Homo sapiens: one gene and its partner. The protein of the gene in region 2 purifies or fractionates together with the protein of the main gene of each other region. This does not show direct contact. Each region holds a gene or a part of one and is shown on either strand. Other genes may lie near its edges.

Evidence for each region. Proteins that work in one complex are often made in the same cells at the same time.
Region 1: the proteins of CSK (region 2) and TNS2 purify together in Homo sapiens (affinity purification with mass spectrometry; 6 studies listed by BioGRID and IntAct, with this or other methods). This does not show direct contact.

What each region holds. Positions count from the first base shown.
Region 1 is NC_000012.12:53,053,053-53,060,097, reverse strand, and holds part of TNS2 (tensin-2), read right to left. Parts: intron 6,703-7,045; exon of another isoform or gene 6,688-6,702; coding exon 6,649-6,687; exon of another isoform or gene 6,524-6,648; intron 6,325-6,523; coding exon 6,286-6,324; intron 6,134-6,285; coding exon 6,084-6,133; intron 5,829-6,083; coding exon 5,657-5,828; intron 4,913-5,656; coding exon 4,862-4,912; intron 4,531-4,861; coding exon 4,408-4,530; intron 4,318-4,407; coding exon 4,253-4,317; intron 3,155-4,252; exon of another isoform or gene 3,086-3,154; coding exon 3,002-3,085; intron 2,532-3,001; coding exon 2,419-2,531; intron 2,326-2,418; coding exon 2,265-2,325; intron 2,072-2,264; coding exon 1,996-2,071; intron 1,783-1,995; coding exon 1,653-1,782; intron 1,527-1,652; coding exon 1,461-1,526; intron 1,385-1,460; coding exon 1,271-1,384; coding exon of another isoform or gene 1,244-1,270; intron 1,052-1,243; coding exon 1-1,051. UniProt on the Homo sapiens protein: Tyrosine-protein phosphatase which regulates cell motility, proliferation and muscle-response to insulin. Phosphatase activity is mediated by binding to phosphatidylinositol-3,4,5-triphosphate (PtdIns(3,4,5)P3) via the SH2 domain.
Region 2 is NC_000015.10:74,778,149-74,785,090, reverse strand, and holds the start of CSK (tyrosine-protein kinase CSK), read right to left. Parts: upstream 3,012-6,942; 5' UTR 2,371-3,011; intron 657-2,370; exon of another isoform or gene 568-656; intron 1-567. UniProt on the Homo sapiens protein: Non-receptor tyrosine-protein kinase that plays an important role in the regulation of cell growth, differentiation, migration and immune response.

The DNA.
Region 1 (7,045 bases), on a different chromosome or scaffold from region 2:
GGATACCCTCTGCCCTCTCCTGGAGAGCCACAGCTATGAGGCACACGGCCATATGCTGGGCAGTAACTGGGAACTGCTCCTCCATAGCTGTATGTCACCAGGGCAGGGTACCCTGGATGCCCATACCTGCCTTCGGGGCACATGGTGTAGGAGCAGCCCTCGTGCCCTTCCTCGCCTGCCTTGGGTGGCTTCAGGCAGCTGTAGTCAGGCATCGGGGCATGGTGATGCCCACAGGCAGGCAAGAGCAGAGGCAGCGGGTGCCCAGGCCGCACTGGGTGCAGGAGAGGCTTGCCAGCCTCACTTGCCCACCCTTCTCCAGCCTCCCTCTCCAGCCGCAGTCCATACAAGGCTGCTGTAGGCAGCGCCAGCTTCTCCTCGCAGGCTGGGCATGGGTATAGGGCAGGCAGCCCAGGGTCCTCCAGGATGACCACCTCCCGGTAGCCTGGGGCGCGGTAGCCAAAGTCCCCAGTGGCTGGTTTCCCCATCTCAGGTGGGTAGGGGTATAGCCCCTCTGACAGCGATCGGCAGAGGCGCCTCTTCTCCATCGAGGCCTCGGCGTAGCCCTGGGGGGATCCCTCATAGCCCCCGTAGGCCAGTCGCCTCCTCTCCAGGGTTCCCTCTGGCCGGTAGTAGCCCCCATTGGGAACCCCGCAGGGCTCCCGGTAGCCCTGGCGGCAGGAGCAGTGGCGGCTGAGGCCAGGCCTATGGCCTGGATACACTCCGAGGTGGGGGCCTCCGCCCACAGTGGGCTGCTCTTCGTCATCTAGGATGGCCGTCTCGCGCCCAGCTCCCCGGCCCCCACTGGCCACTCCGCAGCCTCCTAGGAGGCGATCCAGCTCCTGCCGTTCAGCAGCTGTAGGGGGCGGCCGGCCAGGGGACTCAGCAGCCGGCTCTGTGGTCAGCGTGGAGGAATGGCCTGAGTCGCTGCTGACAGAGAGCATGGGGGGTGGTGGAGGCTCTGGAGAGGGTGCCGGGGGGGTCTGCCGGGGAGGCCGCTGCACCTGGGCATAAGGACTGCCATCCAGGGGACCCCGGGTGTGGGTCAAGGAGCCTGAGTGGGGAAGAGGATCAGGGAGGGAGGGCAAGCGGGGAACAGGGAGGGAGAGAGAAAATTCATGAGAGGGGATGGCACTGGAGACAGCTGTCGGGCCGGGGGTGTCTCTCGGGAGTGGGCTCTGCCTGGGGAGGAGGGAGTGTGCTTCTCCCTGGCACCACCCCCCAGGGTCCCGCCACAACCCTGTACCTCCCACCCTGCAGGCTGCCTGCGCACCATCCACACTGTCCTCGTGGTGCTGGTTGAAGTTCTCATAGGAGTCCCAGCGCACGGCTGGCTCAGTGGTGTTGTAGTCGACAGAGACCGAGGGGTCGTTCCGTGGAGTGCTGCCTGTGGAAGGCCACTCGGGTATTGGGGAGCAGGGGAGAGGCGGCCCTCAGTCCCCAGCCCATGTCCCTGCTCTTACCTTTGATCTTCTCGGGGCTGGAGGAGAAGACAAACTCCACGGAGGCTTGGAAGGGGAACCTCTCATCTATGGGGAGTGGACAGTGAAGAACCAGGCCCCTGGCCCATACCACACTCTCCTGCCTGCCTGCCACCTGCCTGCCACCTGCCTGCCACCTGGACTCCAGCCCCAGGCCACTTGTCTCAGACTCACCAGTCCAGGCCTCGTCAAGCTGGTCCTTGGGGAAAGTGAGCTGTGGTCCGTGGATGGTGCAGGTGTGGAACTGGACTCGGAACACGAGGGTCCGGTCTGTGCCCCGGCCACCCTTGTGATAACATGTTACCTGGGAGAAAGGCAGGAGGCTGCGGATCAGGCCTCATGTCCTCTTCTGCGCTTCCACCCTGGGGACTGCCTGGTCACAGCTTCTGCCCTGCCTCGATCTCAAGGTGATCTCCCTACTCGCTCTCCAATCTGTCTCAAATTGGTGACTGTGCCGTTACACCACCAACCCCTGCCCCATCTCCAGGATTCTTCTTGTTGACAGGACCCCCCTCACCATGACATCGCCTTTGAGGAGGAGGGCTGGCTCCAGGCTGATGCAAAGCTGCTGGGGACCAGGGCCTGCAATGTGACTGTGGGGAGAGAGGAGAAGGCAGAGATGAACCAGAAGCTCCTGCGTGCAGAGGCAGCTATGCAGTCAGGGGGAGCCAGGAGACCAGAGTCTGAGCCCTGCCCAGGTGTCTAGGGAGGCTGGAGAAGCAGGAATGCAGGAGCAAGAGGGGCCCTGGTCATGAAGTGTCAGGGGCCTGGGAATAGAGCACTCACTAGACTCCAGATGTGTAGACAAGCTGCATGGACTGGTAGATTTTAAGGAAGGGCTGGAAGCCTGGAGGGGCAGAGGAGAAGGCACAGGAGGGGTGCTGAGTGGAGAGGGCCTGAAGGTGGTTCTCCCTAGGGAGCACATCTCAGGCAGACTCACCTGTGCCAGGTTCAAAGGCTGGCAGCATGGGGATGAGCACATAGTGCAGGAAGAGAGGGCTGCTGTTCATTCTGATGGAGCCAGATAGCAGCCCACTGAAGTAGCTGATATATCTGGTGGAGGGCGTGTCAAGGAGAACATAAGCCTTTTCCTCTGGAGGTCACCTTGTATCATTTCAACCATCCACCCTTAGAAGGCTCGCTCTTCTGCTCAACACTTCCTTCCCATCTTCCGGGTCACCAGAAAGTTCTTCCTTGCATCTAACCTCAATCCCTCCTGCTCCCCTCTGCCTCAAAGCTCTTTCCCCAGAGCTCTGCTTCACTTTATAGTGGCAGGCCCTGACTGTCCTTCAGGTTCTCTTTATGACTGATCTCCTCGTCTATTTATTCCCAGGTCTACTGCCTTCCACCCTACTAGCATGAAAGCTCCATGAGAGCAGGGGCTTTGTCCACTTTGAATTCTCAGCACCTGGCACGGCGCTTGGCACACTCAGTGAAAGTGTGCTGCATGAATAAGAGAGTCTTGGCCTTGGTAGCCATGAAGGGAGCTGCTCCTCTGGCCCATCCCCACCCAGGCTGCTCACCGACGCTGGGAGGGCTGCAGTTCTGTGGCCACCTTGTCCTCGCAGAATTTCCGCATGGTAAGAGTGGCCAGTGCCTGGTCCGCCCTGGGGATAGCAAGGCCAGTGTTGGGGATTAGGGATTAATCTTCATCCTGGCCTCCCATCCCTAAGCCCCAGGGGATGGAGGAGAAATATGATTCTCTAAGTCTAGAAGAAGCCCAGAGTAGTGGTAATGAGAATGAGAAGCACCATGTACAGTCACTTTACTAGTTGTTGGGCCTCAGGCAATTGTTCCCTGAACTTTAGTTTTTTCATCTGTAAAACAGGGCAACAAAACCATCTTATGGGTTGAATTATATCCCCCCAAAAGACATGTACCTCAGAATGTGACCTTATTTGGAAATAGGGCCGTTGCAGACATAATTAGTTAAGATGAGACCATACTGAAGGAGGGTGGACCCTGAATCCAATATGATTGGTGTCCTTATAAGAAGAGAGGAAGAGACACAGACAGAGACACACAGGGAGAACACCATGTGATGACAGAGGCAGCGATTACAGTGATGTGTCTGCAAACCAAGGAATGCCAAGGCTTGCCGCCCACCACTGGAAGCTAGAAAGAGACAAGGAAGGATTCCATCCCGAGTCTCAGATGGAGCAAGGGCCTGCTGACAGCTTGGTTTGGGGCTTCTGGCCTCCAGAACTGTGAGAGAGTACATTTCCACTGTTTTTTGTTTTGTTTTGTTTTTGTTTTTTTTGAGACGGAGTCTGACTCTGTCACCCAGGCTGGAGTACAGTGGCACCGTGTGGGCTCACTGCAACCTCCGTCTCCTGGGTTCAAGCAATTCTCCTGCCTCAGCCTCCTGAGTAGCTGGGATTACAGGCGCCCACCACCACGCCCGGCTAATTTTTATATTTTTATATTTTTGGTAGAGATGGGGTTTCACCTGGCCAGGCTAGTTTCAAACTCCTGACCTCAGGTGACCTGCCCACCTCAGCCTCCCAAAGTGCTGGTATTACAGGCGTGAGCCAACGCACCCGGCCCATTTCCACTGTTTTACACCACCCTGTTTGTGGCTGCCCCAGGAAACTCTACAGACCATCTGCTGCAGACTATGTTGCAGTACTAGTGATAAAAGGGAGGTGGAAGTGCTAAGCTGACAGCAAAGGACTCTCAACGAAGAGGTGGGCTCCAGGGGAGATGGGTTCCTAAGGGGCCAGCTGGAGAAAGGGCCACTGGGGAAGCAGCTACTCAGGCGCTGGGAGCCTCACCCTGCAGAGATCTTGCTGTAGTGCATGTAGGCAGAAACGATGACCCCAAGCTTGCCCTTGTTTCCCTGACAGACAGAGAGACAGGGATGAGGGTCTGGGAGCTCCAGGCTGACCTGGAACCTCCAGGCACCAGGGAACCCGAGGTCCTGGCCCACCTTGCAGTATAGTACGACCACGTGCTGTGGGTCAGCACTGAGCCATGTCTCCATGGCTTTGCAGATGGAGCACAGCTTGTCCAGGGGTGGAGCATGCAGCTCAGGCCAGCCGAAGTCTTGAACCTGGGGAGAATGCAGGGGTGCAACTGGGGCCGGGGGCCACCAACAGAGAGAGATGGGCAGGGTGGAAAGGGGACAGGGCATAGGGGTCCGGGGGCAAGGCTGGGGGTCTGCTGGTTGTCCATGATAGCCTCGGCACTTTCCTTATCCATACAATGGGCTGATACCTGCTGCATCACGTTTTGGGGTGTCTCCAGTAATATATCATGGGAGAGTGGGAAAGTGCTTAAGAGTGAAGTAGATGCCAATTGCTACTATTAATAACGAGGAAGCTGGGGGCTTCTGGGGTTGGGGTGGCTTGGTTTAATGGTTGGGCAGGCCATTTCCTTCATACCTTGGGGTTTAAGCGGGTCAGGTCATGCCTTTTCTCTGAAAGGTTGAAGAGCTGAAATAAAGGGGGAGGGCTTTAGACAGAAATGATCTCCGGCAATGAGGCACGAGGTGGAGGTGGATCCTAAGTAAGAATCTTCCTCTAAAATAAGGTGCAGGCCGGTCGCAGTAACTCACGCCTATAACCCCAGCACTTTGGGAGACCAAGGCGGGCGGGTCACCTGAGGTCAGGAGTTCGAGACCAGCCTGGCCAACATGGTGAAACCTCATCTCTACTAAAATTACAACAATTTGCCGGGTGTGGATCGCTTGAGCCCTGGAGTCTTGAGACCAGCCTGGCCAACATGGCGAAACCCCGTCTCTACAAAAAATACAAAAAAAAAAAAAAAAAAAAAAAAAAATTGGCTGGGCGTGAGTGACGCACGCCTGTAATCCTAGCTACTGAGGCTGAGGTGGGAGAATCGCTTGAGCCCGGGTGGAGGAGGTTGCAGTGAGGTGAGATCGTGCCACTGCACTCCAGCCTGGGCAACAAAGTGAGACCCCGTCTCAAAAAAAAGGTAAATAAATAAAGAAAATAAAAAGGTAGCTAAGGCCCGGCCTAGCCAGTCACAGCCAAGTCGCCAGCGTTCCAGGATTCTCCGCTCCGCTCCAGGCCGCGCTCCGGGCCCCGCCCCCACCCCACCACTCTGGTCCCGCCCCCTGGCGGCCTCGCCTCCGCTGGTGACGTCAGTGATTAGCCTCGCCCATCTGGACCCTACATCCCTCTCATTGGCGGACTCCTGATGGCCCCGCCCCTCACCAGGTACTTGTCCCGGTGCTTGGATTGCAGCACATGGGCCAGCTCGCGCAGGTGGCCCCGGTGCCGCTGTTCATCGGGCCGCGCGGGGAAGGCGGCGGCCAAGATGCGCTCCGTCACGTAGGTGAGGTCTAAGTCCCAGCGCCGCTCCATGAGCGGGTCCAGGCTGAAGCTCCTGGGGAGGAGGAGCCTACGCATGAACGCAGGGGCGGGGCACCCGGAGGTGGCTAGTGTGACGGGAAGGCTGTCTGTTGGGCAGCAGGTGAAGCCTGCTGGGTCCTGAGGGTGGGTGGATCGGTCTGGAGGGAGAATACCGCTTTGGGGGTGGGGGGCTGTCCCGGGGAGCTCTGTTGCGGGGCAGTGCCCTGGGCTGAGGTGTGGGGCCGGCGGAAAGGGGGTCACGTGGGACCACCCCAGCACCCTCACTTACCTGGGCAGAGTGCTGCGCTGCTTTGAGTGGTTCAGAGATTTGGTGGATCCCTGGTGGTTAACAGACAGTGTCTAGACATCTCTTTGGGTACCCCCTACTCTAGACTGCCCACTCCAGAGCCATGCCCTTTTTGTCTTCAGGAAATCTAGATCCTTACTCCCAAAGCTACCTGCTTCCCCCTCCTGCTCCAGCATCACCTTACCAGGTGCTCTATGCGCCTGACTGGGGCCGTGTTTCGCCGCTAGAGGGAGATGGGGGAGGAAAAGGGAGTGGTTAGTTACAGCAGGGGCAAGGACCAATGTGGGCCTTGGGGACAGGGGAAGGGAATGTCAGTGTCCTTTTGAAGGCTGTACTGGATAAGGGGAGAGGAGTCCTACCCCCAGCAGGCCCAAGGGCACAAGATCAGCAGAGGACTCAGACAGTTTTTTCTTTCCTCATAGGATGAGCAATACCCACAGCACTCCGTTCAAGGTCATCTCCTGGGGGCCCTCTCTGGAGCCACCAGACCTCTGGACACCATGGCCAGGTTCCTTGCCCTCCCCACCCCATCCCAGAGCGCACTCACCAACTCCACGGGAGGCAAGGCCTGACAGGCTGAAGTCACCTGGAAGGGGACCGAGTAAGGAACTGAGCTCCTGGTGAAGGGCTCTCGTGGGCTTGAGGATGGGGCAGCCCCTCAGCTTCAGGAGGAAGGTGGAGGGGCCTTCAGTGGATGGGCACAGGCTCCAGCTGAGGTTGCGCTATTTAAGGGCACCTCCCCTCTGGCCTCTTGGTCCCCCACCCCCCAGGCCCCCCACTTGTTGCTCTTGGCGCTCAGCCCCCAGCCCACACAGACCCCCATTCATCCAGCTGTAGGGCAGGAGTTATATATAGAGCCAAGCAGGCAGGCCATGGCCAGGGATGGACACTGGCTTCTTTCACCGGGAGACCCCGCCCCTGGGCACACAGCTCCCCCAAGCCAG
Region 2 (6,942 bases):
TTTTCTAAATTTCCTGTAGCGCTGTTTTGTTATTTTCTAAATCAAGAAAATGAGTACATTCATGGTTTCCCTATAATGAGCTCAGATTCACTTCCCTGGGACCCACCTGCTCCCTAGCTCTGGCCCACGTGTCTGGGACAATTTCTGCCATGGGATGCCTTTCTCATTTGGGACAGTCCCTCAGACATATGAGAATCTGTCCCTACTTTCTCTTTCCCAGACTCAGTCAACATCCCTGGCTCTTTGAAGATGACCTGTCAAGGTTTTAAAATCCTTCAAAAGATGGAGCCCAGAACCGCACCCAGGTGGGTCTGCCCCCTTTGGGGGGCAGCCATGTCACACTGTGGATCCTGGGTCTCAACCCCTACCTATACTTGTTTGGAGGAAGCTGCATTCTGTCCCCGAAATTTCCAACCCTTGCCGAGGGCCACTCTGTGTGGCTCAGCCTTTTGGGGTCTGGCCCCCCTGCGGTGGTGAATGGGAACATTTTCTGCTTTTTCCTTGCCCCTGACCCAATGCAGAGAGAAGAGCAGCTGCTTCTGAGAGGGTGGAGGGCACCAAGCTCACCAATGAAAAGCACATCCCTGCACACGTGCCAGCCAGAAGCCAGACTCCTTTCTTCAAAGGCCCTGGGACCCTGGATCACACCTTCACAGCTCACAGTTGGTAAAAAAATAAAATAAAATAAAATAAAAATTAAAAAGGCTGACTGGGGTGGGAGGGAGCTAACCATGTCAGGCTCCAGCCCCAGTCCCTCAGGCTGGAAAGGAAGTTAGGGCTGGGTGTGGGGCCATGTGAGGGGAGTCTCACAGGCCCAGGACATCTGGGTCCCCTCCACTGTGCATGTCAGGACAGCCAGAAAAAAAAGTGAAAAAACAAAAAAACCCTAAATCGTGAGCAGGGACCCAGCAGGACAAAACTGCCAGCAGCTCCAAGGGAGCCCAGACACTGCTCAGCACCCACCAGGGCAATGCCTGCTCTCCTGGGCCAGAGGATCCTGCCAGGCCTCAACCTCACCCCTGCTGTCCTTGCCCTGTTCCTGCTGTGGCCACAACCAAGAAAGACACTGGAACCGCCAGGGTACTAGGAGCTTGAAACAGGCCCCCTGGGTGTCCCCACTCTCACAATGCTCCCATGTCCCCAGTCTGTAGCCTGCTGCCAGTGGAGACAGAGCTTCCACGGTTCCCATGTGACCCCATTTATATCCTGAACTTGGCTGCTCCTGTGCCAGCTGGGCCATAGGTGTGGCGAGTGCTGGGTCAGGACTGACCACCAGGTTGTTTCAACTCAGAGCCGGGGCCAGGACCGGACCTTCCTGCCACACCACACAGATGGCCATACACCACACATTCCCCACATCTCCTGCTAGCTGACCCAGCCACAGCTGGAGCCGGAAGCCCTTTCACTCCCTCCAGCCCTCTGCAGGGAAGCACGTGCTCAACCAACAAGGTCCCTCTGGGGCCGGGCTGGGGGCCTGTGTCCCCAGTGGGTGAAGGTGCCTGCCTGGTTTCCTTCCACCCACAGCCATCCAGCCCTGTATAGCTGGGGATGAAAGGACAGCCAGCCTAACTCCACTAGAGGCCTGGGGTAGCAACTTCTCCCTTTGAGCCTCGGTTCCCGGGTGTACAAAATGGGCGGGGAAGTGAACTGGTAGTTAAGCTCCAAAAAATCTGCTGGCTGGACACACCCCTTCCTGACACCTGGTCTGGGCCACAAAGAGCCTAGGAGAATGGGCTGCCCAGGGTGCCAGAAGGTGGGGGCATGGTGCTAATGCTCCGTTACCTCCCCCCGGGCAGAAGGCCTGCCCAGTTTCCCACCCAAAGATCCCTTGGCTTAGGCCTGGTCTTCTGAGAGGCCAAGGGTGACAGGCTCAGTCCTAGGACCTGGGCTTCTAACTGCTCACCCGAGGTGGCTGGGCCCTGGGCTTGCTTGCAGCCCGCAGGGTCATGGTGGGGTAATGAGGGAGGGGTCAGAACCAAGCAAGCCAGGGCACCTGCGGGGAGGCCCTGTACAGGGAAGGGCAGGGGAGTCCAGCACTCTCTCTAGGGACCTGGCCCATACGGATCCTCTTCCTCCAGACTCCAGCCACCTCCTACTCTGAGCTCCACAGAGGGGGGGACTCGGGATGACCCGAGAAGACGAGTCCGTGGAGCTGCAGGGCAGTACCTCCCTCATGCACTCCCTTCCAATTTGGGTTCTGACAGTGGCTCCTGGGAGAATTCGAACCCGTGCAAGGGAGTAAAGGAGAGAAGGGAGAAGTGGGAGAAGAGGGGAATGGGAGTGGACGCGACAGTGGCAGCAACAGAGACTAGACGCGCGACCTCCACCCTCTTCCCTCCAGGGGACACTCCGGGACGGCCAGGCACTCACCTCTCTTGGGGCACTGCGGTCCGGGCCACCTCGCCGCGGGCGGCATCAGCGGCCTGCGGGACGGTCCATGCGGTCAGGGGGGAGGGGAGGGGCGCAGGGGTCCCCAGGGGGTGCGGTACAAAGAGGTATGGGTGCAAGGAGAGGGGAGGAGGGACCGCCAGGCAGAGGCAGGGGGACGGACGCACGGCCCGGGTCGCGGAGGGAAGAAAGGCGGGGGAAGGGGGCGGGAGGGAGTCGGGGGGAGGAAACAATGTAGCCGGCGCGGCCCCGGCAGAGTTCCGCTTCCGAGCGCCGCCACTGAGGTTCGATTTTGGAACGTCGCGCTGGCTGCCGGGGGCCGCCCCGGACGCTCGATCGGGGCCGCGGGGCTCCTCGCGCTCCACGCCCCGCGGGCTCCGGCGGCCAGAGGCTGGCTGGGGCGGGAGGGACGGCGGGCCGGGTTACGGCCCCGACGGCGGCGCAGCCGGGCGGTCGCCCGGCTCGGACCCCACCCCGGCAGAAGCCCCCGGGCAAGGCGCGGGTGGGGCAGGAGCGGGAGGGCGGCAGCGGGCTCGGCGGCGGCGGCGGCCAACCTCGGCTCGCCCAGGGCTCCGCTGGGAGGAAGCTCGCAGGCCTGGCGAGAGGAAGCGCGGCCCGGATCCTCCGCCCGCGGCAGCGCGCCTGCGCGAGGGGGCCTGCCCGGCGCGCGGCGGGGCGTGGGCCGGCGGGGCGGCGCCCCCTGCCGGGCGCCGGGGGCACTGCGGGGGGTGTGTCCGCGCCCACGCCCTGCCCCCACTTGCCGCCTGGCTGCGTTGAAGGCTCCGAGGGTCTCTCCTCAGCCGGCCTGGGAGCAACCTCCCAGCCTTCTCTGGACGCAGCTTTCCCGCTGCAGAAGCGCTGGGGGCCGGGCCTGGGCCCCTCTCCTCAGGTCTGTTTGTGGAGAGTGGGCCTGATTCGCAGCAGAAAGCCTTCATTCATTCATTCACCAACATTTCCTGGCGCTGACATCGTGGCGGAGCCTGCTCTGGAGTCTATTGGCAAGACCATTTCACTACCGTCAAGGCGTTCTCGGTCGGGTGGGGGTAGGCTGACAGGCCGACAGACAACGGCAAGGAAATAATTGATCAAAGTGGAGAGGTGGTGGACACGGTTCCCAGGAGGCAGAAAGAAAACTAGGGCTAACGGGGAGACCTCACACCTCACAGAGCCGGGACCAGGCAGAGGGAACAGCATGCACAAGGGCGGGGAGTGCGGAGGGAGCTTGGTGGCTTCTGGGATCTAAATATAGCTCAGGCGGCTGCCGCTTGCAGTGTGGGTGGGGGAGAGTGGTGGGAGATGGGTTCCTGCAAACAACAGGGGCAAAAGAGATCCAAAGAGCCTCATGGGACTTTCTTGGAGTTTATGTTCAGCCTGGAGGCAATAAAGAAGTTGTCAGCAGCTCTGTGACCTTGGGCAAGTTACTTAACCTCTCTGTGCTTTAGTTTCCCCATTTGGTAAAATAGGTGATATATAATGGCACCGACTTCTTAAGTTTTTGTGGGGAGGGGAGGAAATGAGTTAATACGTTTAAAGTGCTTAGTATGCAGTAGCTGGCACGTGAGGAGCCCTCCGTTAAGCAAGGGCTGTTACATCACTGTTAACGAAAAGCAGGGAGATGACCTGCTCTGAGCCACAGGAGAGGACAGCGTGCTCAGGCATGACAGGGGTGGGAGAGTGCAGGGTGGCGGGGGAACAGAATGGGGATGCAGTGATGAGGGTGAGACCGGGGAACAGAATGGGGATACAGTGATGAGGGCGAGACCAGAGACTCCAGCGTAGGGAGGAGGTAAAGGTGGGGGACTTTCTAGGGACTAGACCCTGAAGCAAGGGTCAGGCTTGGGTGGACAGAGGGAAGAGGCACTCTTGGGGTTGGGGGGGAGGAAGTGGGGCATGCTGACAAAGTCTTGGAACACAAAATAAGCATGAAGAGGCCCGAGGGAGCGAGAAGAGGGCAAACAGCCCTGTGGGAGACGGAGCTGGGAGACAGTGTGGCTGCAGATTGTTTTAAAGAGCCTCGGATGCCAGGAGGAGTTGCCCCCAAAACCACAGGTCGGCCCTCTGACCCAGGGCACCCTTAGGCCGGTTTCCCAGCTGGAGCCAGCCCTTTGGAGAGGGATGTCCTTTGAGGAGACAGCCAGTAAGTTTCAGAGATAGGTGTGGTGTAACAGAAAAAAGATGAATTTGGGGTTCAAGTCTCCAAGTTAAATTTCAACCCGTCCACTTACTAGCTGTGTGACTTAGGGCTAGTTACCTAAGGTCTCTGAGCTGTTTCCTCTTTTGTAAGATCAGGCTCAAAATATACTTCTCTCATGATAGATAGTGCAGATTCAGCAAGATAACGGCCTGGGGGTGAGGGAGTGGAAAGGGTGCTCAGCAGAGCTGGTTTCCCTTTCTTTCCTCTGAGGTCAAGATGGAATGATAATATGGGGCCGGATGGGGGGCCGCCTCTCAGCCTACAAGAAAGCACTTCAGCAGCTCTGCAAAGCCTTCTGGGAGGGAGAAATTGACATCTCCCCTCCCCTGGCTGAATCAGCTAGCAGAATGGGAAAGAAAAGACTGGGGATTTGGGGAAAATACTCTAATCCCTGTTCCAGTTTTGTCACCAACCTTTCTTTATCCCCAAATGCACTTGACTTTTTCCCCTGGGTGTGCTGTGGCCCAGCTGTGAACTTTGGAGTCAAATAGACCAGCATTTGAATCCTGGCTCCACCTCTTCTCAGCAAAGTGAAATAAATTTTTTAATCTTCCTGTACTCCAGGCACTGGGGATAAAACCATAAACAAATCGATAAAGGGCCCCACTCCCACAGACCTGTCCTCTGGTGGAATTATTGGGCTGGGCGCCGTGGCTCACACCTATAATCCCAGCACTTTGGGAGGCCGAAGCAGGCAGATCACAAGGTCAGGAGATCGAGACCATCCTGGCTAACATGGTGAAACCCTGTCTCTACTAAAAATACAAAAAATTAGCTGGGCGTGGTGGCGGGTGCCTGTAGTCCCAGCTACTGGGGAGGCTGAAGCAGAAGAATGGTGTGAACCCAGGAGGCGGAGCTTGCAGTGAGCCGAGATCACGCCACGGCACTCCAGCTTGGGCAATAGAGCGAGACTCTGTCTCAAAAAAACAAAACAAAACAAAACAAAACAAAAAAACAAATGCTTATTGAGCACCTACTAAGTGCTAGGTGGGAAGTGCTAATTAGGGAAAGGGAATCTGGTCGGTGGGAGCAAGGGAAAGCAAAAAGAGAAATTAGATAAGCTGTGAGTCTGCCTTTCTTCATGTCTAGGACATATAGCTCTCCTGTGCAAATAATTCACAATCTTCCTGTGCCCGACTATCACCAGACTCCTGCAAGTTAGCTCACTGTACCCTTGGCAAGTTAGCTCACTGTACCCTTGGCGTTTGATACTGCACAAAAACCTCCTCAACAGATAGCATAACACTAATTCTATAAAATCTCCAACAACCTTTTGTTTCCTGGCAGTCAGCTTCTCTTCTGCCTTCTTGCAATGTATTTTCCTACTTTTTCTAATAAATCTGCCTTTATCTACAACTGTCTTAGTAAGTTTTTGTTTTGTTTTGTTTTGTTTTTTGTTTGTTTGTTTTGAGACGGAGTCTTGTTCTGTTGCCCAGGCTGGAGTGCAGTGGCATGATCTCGGCTCACCACAACCTCCCGCTCTGGCATTCAACCATTCTTCTGTCTCAGCCTCCCACGTAGCTGGTACTATAGGTGTGTGCCACCATGTTCAGCTAATTTTTGTGTTTTTAGTAGCGATGGTTTTCACCATGTTGGCCAGGCTGGGCTCAAACTCCTGACCTCAAATAATCCACCCACCTTGGCCTCCCAAAGTGCTGGGATTACGGGCGATAGCCACCACGCCCCAGGCCAGTGTTGGAGGAGTGGGGGAGGGTATTGCAGGTGGGGAGGAAGATAGTGAAAGACCCTGAGGCACAGAAAGCCTCAGTGGCTCAAGGGACAGCCAGAAGGCCAAGGTGATGAGACCGGCAAGCAGGGGAGAGTGGTGTTTGAGGAAGGGACAGATTCTATAGGGTGTTGTGGGCCAGAGATTTTTATTACAGGAGTTTAGGTTTTATCATATGAGCAATGGGGAGCCATTGAAAGATGTTTATAAGCAGGGTAGTGATATGATAAAGAGTGAAGGTCGGCTGGGCCCTGTGGCTCTCGCCTGTGATCCCAGCACTTTGGGAAGCTGAGGCAAGAGGATCACTTGAGGCCAGGAGTTTGAGACCAGCCTGGGCAACAGAGCAAGACCCTGTCTCTACAAAAAAAAAATTTCTAATTAGCTAGGCATGGTGGTGTGTGCTGGTAGCTAGCAATCTTCCCATCTCAGCCAGGCTGAGGTGGGAGGATCACTTAGGGTGGGAAGATGGAGGCTGCAGTGAGCCACTGAACTTCAGCCTGTGCAACAGAGTGAGACCCTGACTCCAGAAAAAAAAAAAAAAAAAGTTAAGGTCAAAGGTCAAAGCCCTAGTGAGGAGGCTGTTGCATGGCCTGGACCAGGGCTGACGGGTCTAGCCCTGGTGGAAGCAGCGGGA